2 linked regions of the Homo sapiens genome follow. The protein of the gene in region 1 interacts with the protein of each later gene in a biochemical or structural test. Each region holds a gene or a part of one and is shown in the gene's direction. Other genes may lie near its edges.

The links.
Region 2: the proteins of CACNA1B (region 1) and RXRB form a complex in vitro, tested with the Homo sapiens proteins (one study listed by BioGRID).

What each region holds. Positions count from the first base shown.
Region 1 is NC_000009.12:138,059,080-138,062,896, forward strand, and holds part of CACNA1B (voltage-dependent N-type calcium channel subunit alpha-1B), read left to right. Parts: coding exon 1-110; intron 111-574; coding exon 575-658; intron 659-3,817. UniProt on the Homo sapiens protein: Voltage-sensitive calcium channels (VSCC) mediate the entry of calcium ions into excitable cells and are also involved in a variety of calcium-dependent processes, including muscle contraction, hormone or neurotransmitter release, gene expression, cell motility, cell division and cell death.
Region 2 is NC_000006.12:33,193,032-33,195,637, reverse strand, and holds the end of RXRB (retinoic acid receptor RXR-beta), read left to right. Parts: coding exon 1-68; intron 69-171; coding exon of another isoform or gene 172-183; coding exon 184-275; intron 276-587; coding exon 588-693; intron 694-808; coding exon 809-956; 3' UTR 957-2,050; downstream 2,051-2,606. UniProt on the Homo sapiens protein: Receptor for retinoic acid. Retinoic acid receptors bind as heterodimers to their target response elements in response to their ligands, all-trans or 9-cis retinoic acid, and regulate gene expression in various biological processes.

The sequences.
Region 1 (3,817 bases):
TCTATGATGCACCCTATGAGTACGAGCTGATGCTGAAATGCCTGAACATCGTGTTCACATCCATGTTCTCCATGGAATGCGTGCTGAAGATCATCGCCTTTGGGGTGCTGGTACGTGCTTTGGTCCCTGCTTTGCCTTTTGACAACCTATATTCTGGTTCCCCATCTGTAGGGCGACCTTTGGGGGCTCACAATTTGGAGCTGGGAATTCTCCGAGTACCCAGAGTATATGTAATGCTACAGGGGCCCTGGGGAAGGGGCTGTTCTGAGACTCTTGGCTACATAAGCTCTGCCCCCAGCCTAGGTCCTGGGAGGGAGGCAGGGCTGGGTTCTTCCTCTTTGGACACATGGCTCTTAGTCCTGCCTCTGCCCAGGCCCAGAGGTATCTGTGTCCCTGGCTTTGACATCTGCTTACCTCTGGCCTTGTGCTGTGCCCCCTGGGGTGGCCTGTCTGCCCTGTGCTCAGGGTCTATCACCCTCACCGCTTTCTTAATCAGGGCCACCACCTATATATACCTCTTTGCCAACAGAGCCCTCATCAGCCGCTGGCACTAACTGCTCTTCTTTTTCTCTAGAACTATTTCAGAGATGCCTGGAATGTCTTTGACTTTGTCACTGTGTTGGGAAGTATTACTGATATTTTAGTAACAGAGATTGCGGTAAGTAGCATTTCTGTCCCTCCTTCAGGGTCCCCAGGTGGTTTCCTTCTAGAGCCTGCTCCCCTCAGTGCATCTCCAGGCCCTGTGTTAGCCTCTTCCTGGGTTCCGCAGAACCCCCTGGACATGTGGAGGCTTCGCTCCAGGGGTGGAGTTTAGGGATTGGGTGTTACCTCAGCAGATGTTCTTTCTTGAATAAGAAAGTGGTTCTCAAAGATCTTTTGGGCTGCTGGCCTGAGAGTTACCTGGAGCTCCATGGTAACAACTAATCAAGAAGATGTGAATCTTAAATTTGTATCTGTATAATATGTATCTAACAAGGTGGTATCAAAAATATATAAACTGAAACCAGTAAGGATTTATATTTCAAAATATTGCCCCCCACCGTCTCTCTATCTCTCTCTATATATATCTGGAAATACTCATTCTTACCAAACATATGTGGATTATGTCTTAAAATTGACCAGTGCTGGGATATAAACTTGTCTCAACAAATTTCAAAGCATCTGAATCATAAAGCAACATTCTTTGAGTACAACACATTACACTGGAAATCAATGGCAGAAAATCTCATTTGTTTGGTCTTAGGTTGAATTCTCGAGAAGCAGACGCAGACACGAGCACTCATGTGAAATTTATTTCTTAAGTTATGTTCCCAGTAGAAACCAGCAGAGGGGCATGGGGAAATGGGTGGGAAGAGAAGGACCAGAAATCCTGCGTCCCAAGCCAAGTCCTGGTGGGTCAGTGTGGGTCATCTCCCAAGGGACTTCTGGCAGCAGCGTAGGTCGCACCTCAGAGCTATCCCTGCTGGAAAGGGAGCTGCAACGTGTTTGCCTCTGCACCCTCCGCACGGCATTAGGCTGAGGGCTGCACCTGGGGTGTCAATTCTCAGATGCTTCCAGCTCCCTGAGTGTGCCACGAGTGCTGCACCCAAGCTGTTAGGGCTGAAGGGACGTCTGACACCATCAGAGGAGAACCTGCTGGAGCACCAGGCTCCTTCCTGTTCTGCCCACACTTCACATTGGGTTCACTGTGCTCATTCTTTAGGATGGTGCTGGTCATGGTCTCTGGGAGACAGAGCGGAGCTCCGTCTGCTGTGCTGGTCCAAGCAGAGCTGGTGTTCATCATCCCGTTCCCCCCACCCTTTCTAGAGCCCCTGAGCTGATGTTCATCATCCCGTCCCCACCACCCTTTCTAGAGCCCCTGTCCTGTGGCCAGCCTTCTGCTGCACTGGTTGCTGGCCTGGTGGGATGACCCAGACCCTCAGCCCTGCGCATCCCAAGTCCCTACTTGTTGCCGTTCTTTTTCCAACCCTGGCTGCCGTGGTAATCCAGTCGCAGTGAAGACTGCGCACAGGAGCGTGTTCATAGGAGCATGGAGAAAGGCCCAGTGAAGCCCCTGATTCCCAGAATTATGCAGTGGCAGCTCTGCCCTTCACAGTAATGAGGGTCAGATGATCTGGCTGGCATGGAAACTCTTTGTGATGCCTGCTGGCCTTCTGGCACGAGCAGCCCCAAGTGACCAGGTGGCCACCATGGCTTTGGTGTTGTGTGGTAGAAGCCTTCTCCACCTGTTTGAACCAGGGCCTCTAGATTTGCCAGACCTAAAATTGGGGAAGATGAGCGCAGAGTTCATACTGGGTTTCTGGAGCGATGGTGAGACAGGCCCCTTCTTCTTTCACCATTTCCTCCATCCATACATTTTACTGATTGGGCACCCAGTACCATCGATTGGCCGTTGGTTCATCTTGAAATATGGCACCCCAACCCCATGAAGTGTATCACCAAGCCGGCATTTTATCTCTGCCTTTAAGGTCAGGGCAGCGTCTCCTAAGTGGTGTTGCGTTAGATGATCCAGTGGACCCCGCGGTCACCTGGCTCACATGCATCCCCTGCGTGTGCTCCAAGCTGATGTTATATGGAATCCTGTGTTGGTAAATCTCTGAGATGTTAGTGCCGGCACGGTACTGCACAAGGAAAGGCAAACCCACACCTGGGATGTGGGTGGATCCCAGATGAGACAAATCACTGCCCTTTCCAGGAGAGGGTGTTCTGATATAATCAGCTTACCACTAGGTGGCTGGTTGACAGCCCCAAGGCATGGCACCAGATGGAAGCCCAGTGTTGCTGTCTGTTCATTCCCGGTAGATAATCGTCAGTGGTCATGACTGGATCATGCTGCTGAGAGGCTCTTGGCCACGATGGTCACCCTATCCAGAGGTCTGCTGTGTGGACACTGGGGCTGGTGAGGACAGAGGCTAGCCAATATCTGTTGGTCGACTTATCCCAGTGCTTGGTTTTTAGTGCCCCATGGTGAGCATTGGTTTGCAAAACAAAGGCCTGTACCCCATGCCTGTTCCCAAGGCCCATCTGTCTGCCTCTCACCTAGACCTTGTTCCCTCCAGGATCCTGACCAGCCGTTTGTGCCTGCCTAGGACCCTGTTATCCTCAGCACAGGCAACTTGTTTTCCCCCCCACACAGAGCTGACCAGATACCCTGCCCAGGGCTCTGCTCCACCTCTGTCTTTCAGGCTGTTCCTATGTGAGGCTGTAGTGAGGCCTGCACCAGTATACCAAGCAACCCATCCACAAATCAGGTCTGCGTTTCCCCCTAAGTTGTAGTGAATCCCCATGAAGTGATGGCGGGAGTGAGGTGAGGACGTCATTGGTCAACAGAGGTGCGTGTCATGGGGGATTGGGCCACATGTTGTGTGCTGTGTCCTCTAGACATGCTTGGGTTCGGTCGTAGAGGTACCCCTTCCATTGTTCACTGGGCCTGTGGTGGGTCTGACAGCACATCACTATGGGGAGATGCTTTGGTGTCATAGACAGCGATGTCTCTTGGTGACACACACAGCTGCCACCAGGGCCAGGAAGTAGGTTGGCCCCTCTCATTATGCTTCCGTTCTGTAGATGGCATGGCCTGCTCCCAAATGCTGGGTGTCTGCACTGACTTCTCTGTGGAGGCTTTCCCAGGACTTTACCCAGTATCCTTACCTACCACATACACATCAAGGACCCTGGGGGTTGCTGGGTTTTGTGGCCCAAGTGGCAGGGCCACTGCTATCACATCCTGGGTCTGTTGGAGACCTCACTTGTGCTCTGAAACCTCTCAAGCATGGCAGCGTCTTGAGTCACAGCAGTATTTCCTAAGTGGCCTATG
Region 2 (2,606 bases), on another chromosome or scaffold:
CTTGCCACAGGTCTTCACGTGCACCGCAACTCAGCCCATTCAGCAGGAGTAGGAGCCATCTTTGATCGGTCAGTGGCCCTCGGCTAGGCTGGCATGTAGATAGAGGGGGTGGGGCTATAGGCTGGTCCGTGTCCAAGGCTGGCTGAGCTGTGACCTTTGAGTGACCTGCAGGTCCCTCTCCAGGGTGCTGACAGAGCTAGTGTCCAAAATGCGTGACATGAGGATGGACAAGACAGAGCTTGGCTGCCTGAGGGCAATCATTCTGTTTAATCCAGGTAAGAGGAGGATTACCTTTGTCTCTCAAGGCCAAGGCAACCTTGGAGCCTCCTCTTCTCCGAGACTCCTAAGTTACCCAGCTATCCCCCTCAGTAAGACCCTCAACCTGGAAATCTCCCAACTGGCCGAGGAAAAACCCACATCCACGGATCCATCCCACAAACCCAGTGGGCCCTGCTTCCCTTGCCAGGCCTCTGGTAAAGGGCAAGCAAGTGCAGCCCAAAAGGGGCATCCTGTGGCTCACATCTGCATGGCCATCCTGATTTGGTTTGTCTTCATTTCTCTTCCTCCTCTCTTCCCTGCCATCCCAGATGCCAAGGGCCTCTCCAACCCTAGTGAGGTGGAGGTCCTGCGGGAGAAAGTGTATGCATCACTGGAGACCTACTGCAAACAGAAGTACCCTGAGCAGCAGGGACGGTGAGATGGGGCTGGGGGGCACTGAGGCTCCCTTGGGGGTGGGGAGTGCTATGAGGATGTGTTCAGGGCCCGTGTGCTTCCAGCTCTCAATCCCCTTCTCCCACCTCCACCCCAGGTTTGCCAAGCTGCTGCTACGTCTTCCTGCCCTCCGGTCCATTGGCCTTAAGTGTCTAGAGCATCTGTTTTTCTTCAAGCTCATTGGTGACACCCCCATCGACACCTTCCTCATGGAGATGCTTGAGGCTCCCCATCAACTGGCCTGAGCTCAGACCCAGACGTGGTGCTTCTCACACTGGAGGAGCACACATCCAAGAGGGACTCCAAGCCCTGGGGCAGGGTGGGGGGCCATGTTCCCAGAACCTTGATGGGGTGAGAAGTACAGGGCAGAACCAAGAACATAAACCCTCCAAGGGATCTGCTTGATATCCCAAGTTGGAAGGGACCCCAGATACCTGTGAGGACTGGTTGTCTCTCTTCGGTGGCCTTGAGTCTCTGAATTTGTCGGGTTCTCCCATGATTTGGGGTGATTTCTCACCCTCTGTCCTTCCCCCAGCACAAAGCACTGGCCTTGCCTCCAGGACCTTGCTTCCTTCTCATCTTGCCTCATTTTGCTTCCCATCTGAAGAGTGGAAATGGGGAACTCCCCCAGAGGTGGATACTGGGGGGCAGGCCTCCCAAGCTGATGGACATGAGAGTAGGGCCCTGACAGGCCTTCCTCCTCTCAAACCTGGCAGATGGGGGCCTCTCTGGAAGAGGGAGGGGCCCTGTCACTGTCCAGAGTCTCTTTTTACACTTCACCTCCTTCTGCAGTCAGACTGAAATATAAAAAAGGTGGTGGTGGTGGTGAAGGGGCTGGTGGAGATGTAGGAACCGATCTGCTATTTTTAATTTCCTGTGAGGATAGAGACTTGCAGTTAGACTCAAAGAAGTACTGTACTTTCCCAGGTTGACTAAGAAATGCCAGTGGTGGAGGTGGGTGTTTGGGAAAGGCAGGGCCCTGAAATGGCCTGTCCCTAGGGCTCTCCAAGCACTAGCCTTCCCAGCTTCCCGCCGCCCCCCCTATCTCTTCCTGTCTAACTTGGGGAAGGGGCCTGGGCTGTGAGGACAGGGCCCCCACAGGGGATGGTTTCACGAGTGTAGTCCCGGAGGCCTTCCCTTTACAGCTCTCCTCCAGCCCTGGGCACATAGCATAGGCTGGGGACACAGGATCCTGGCCTGAGAATTGAGGGGAGGTGGCCAGCCCGCAGAGGTGGGGTGCTGGGGCTGCATGATTTTTGCCCTGCGTCCCTTCTCTTTGGGGCTCCTTTCCCCTCTCATACATAAAATCGCTTTCAAATTAAAATCGCTGTTTTCTGGACTGAGGTGACTGTATGAGGATGGGCAGCGCCGTTTCGGGCTTGGGGGGGGTATCCGGTTGGGAGCTCCGGACGCGATCCCTGGACGCCGCCGCCGAGGTTCCGTGGGGCCCAAGAGGTGCACGCAGGGTGGGGGACACAAGGCAAGCTTTGTCGGGGAGGGGGGGAGAGGGTGTGCCAGGCTGGGGGCGGGGCCGGCCGGAGGAGGAAGGGGGGGCGGTGGATTCTCAAAGGCGCCTTGTTCGCTCGTGCCCTCTCCGCGCCAGCGGGCGGCGGCGCCTCGGCTCGCTGCGGCCTTCCCTCCGGGCGCGCTGCGGGCTCCGGGCAGACCCGGCGCCGTGCCCGCTCGTGGGGGCGCACTGGGCGCCGAGCGCTGCGTGCTTCTCAGGCGTTGCCCGCCCGGAGGCGGCCCACGTCCCCGAGTGACCCCATTTCCCTGGACCCTTCCAACCAGAGTCGACTGCTCGCTCATCTTACCACTGCTCCCCCTCTACCTCGGCTCTGGGACTCCCTAACCGCGTCCCCCATTTGCATCTCCTTGGACCTGACTATCCTGTG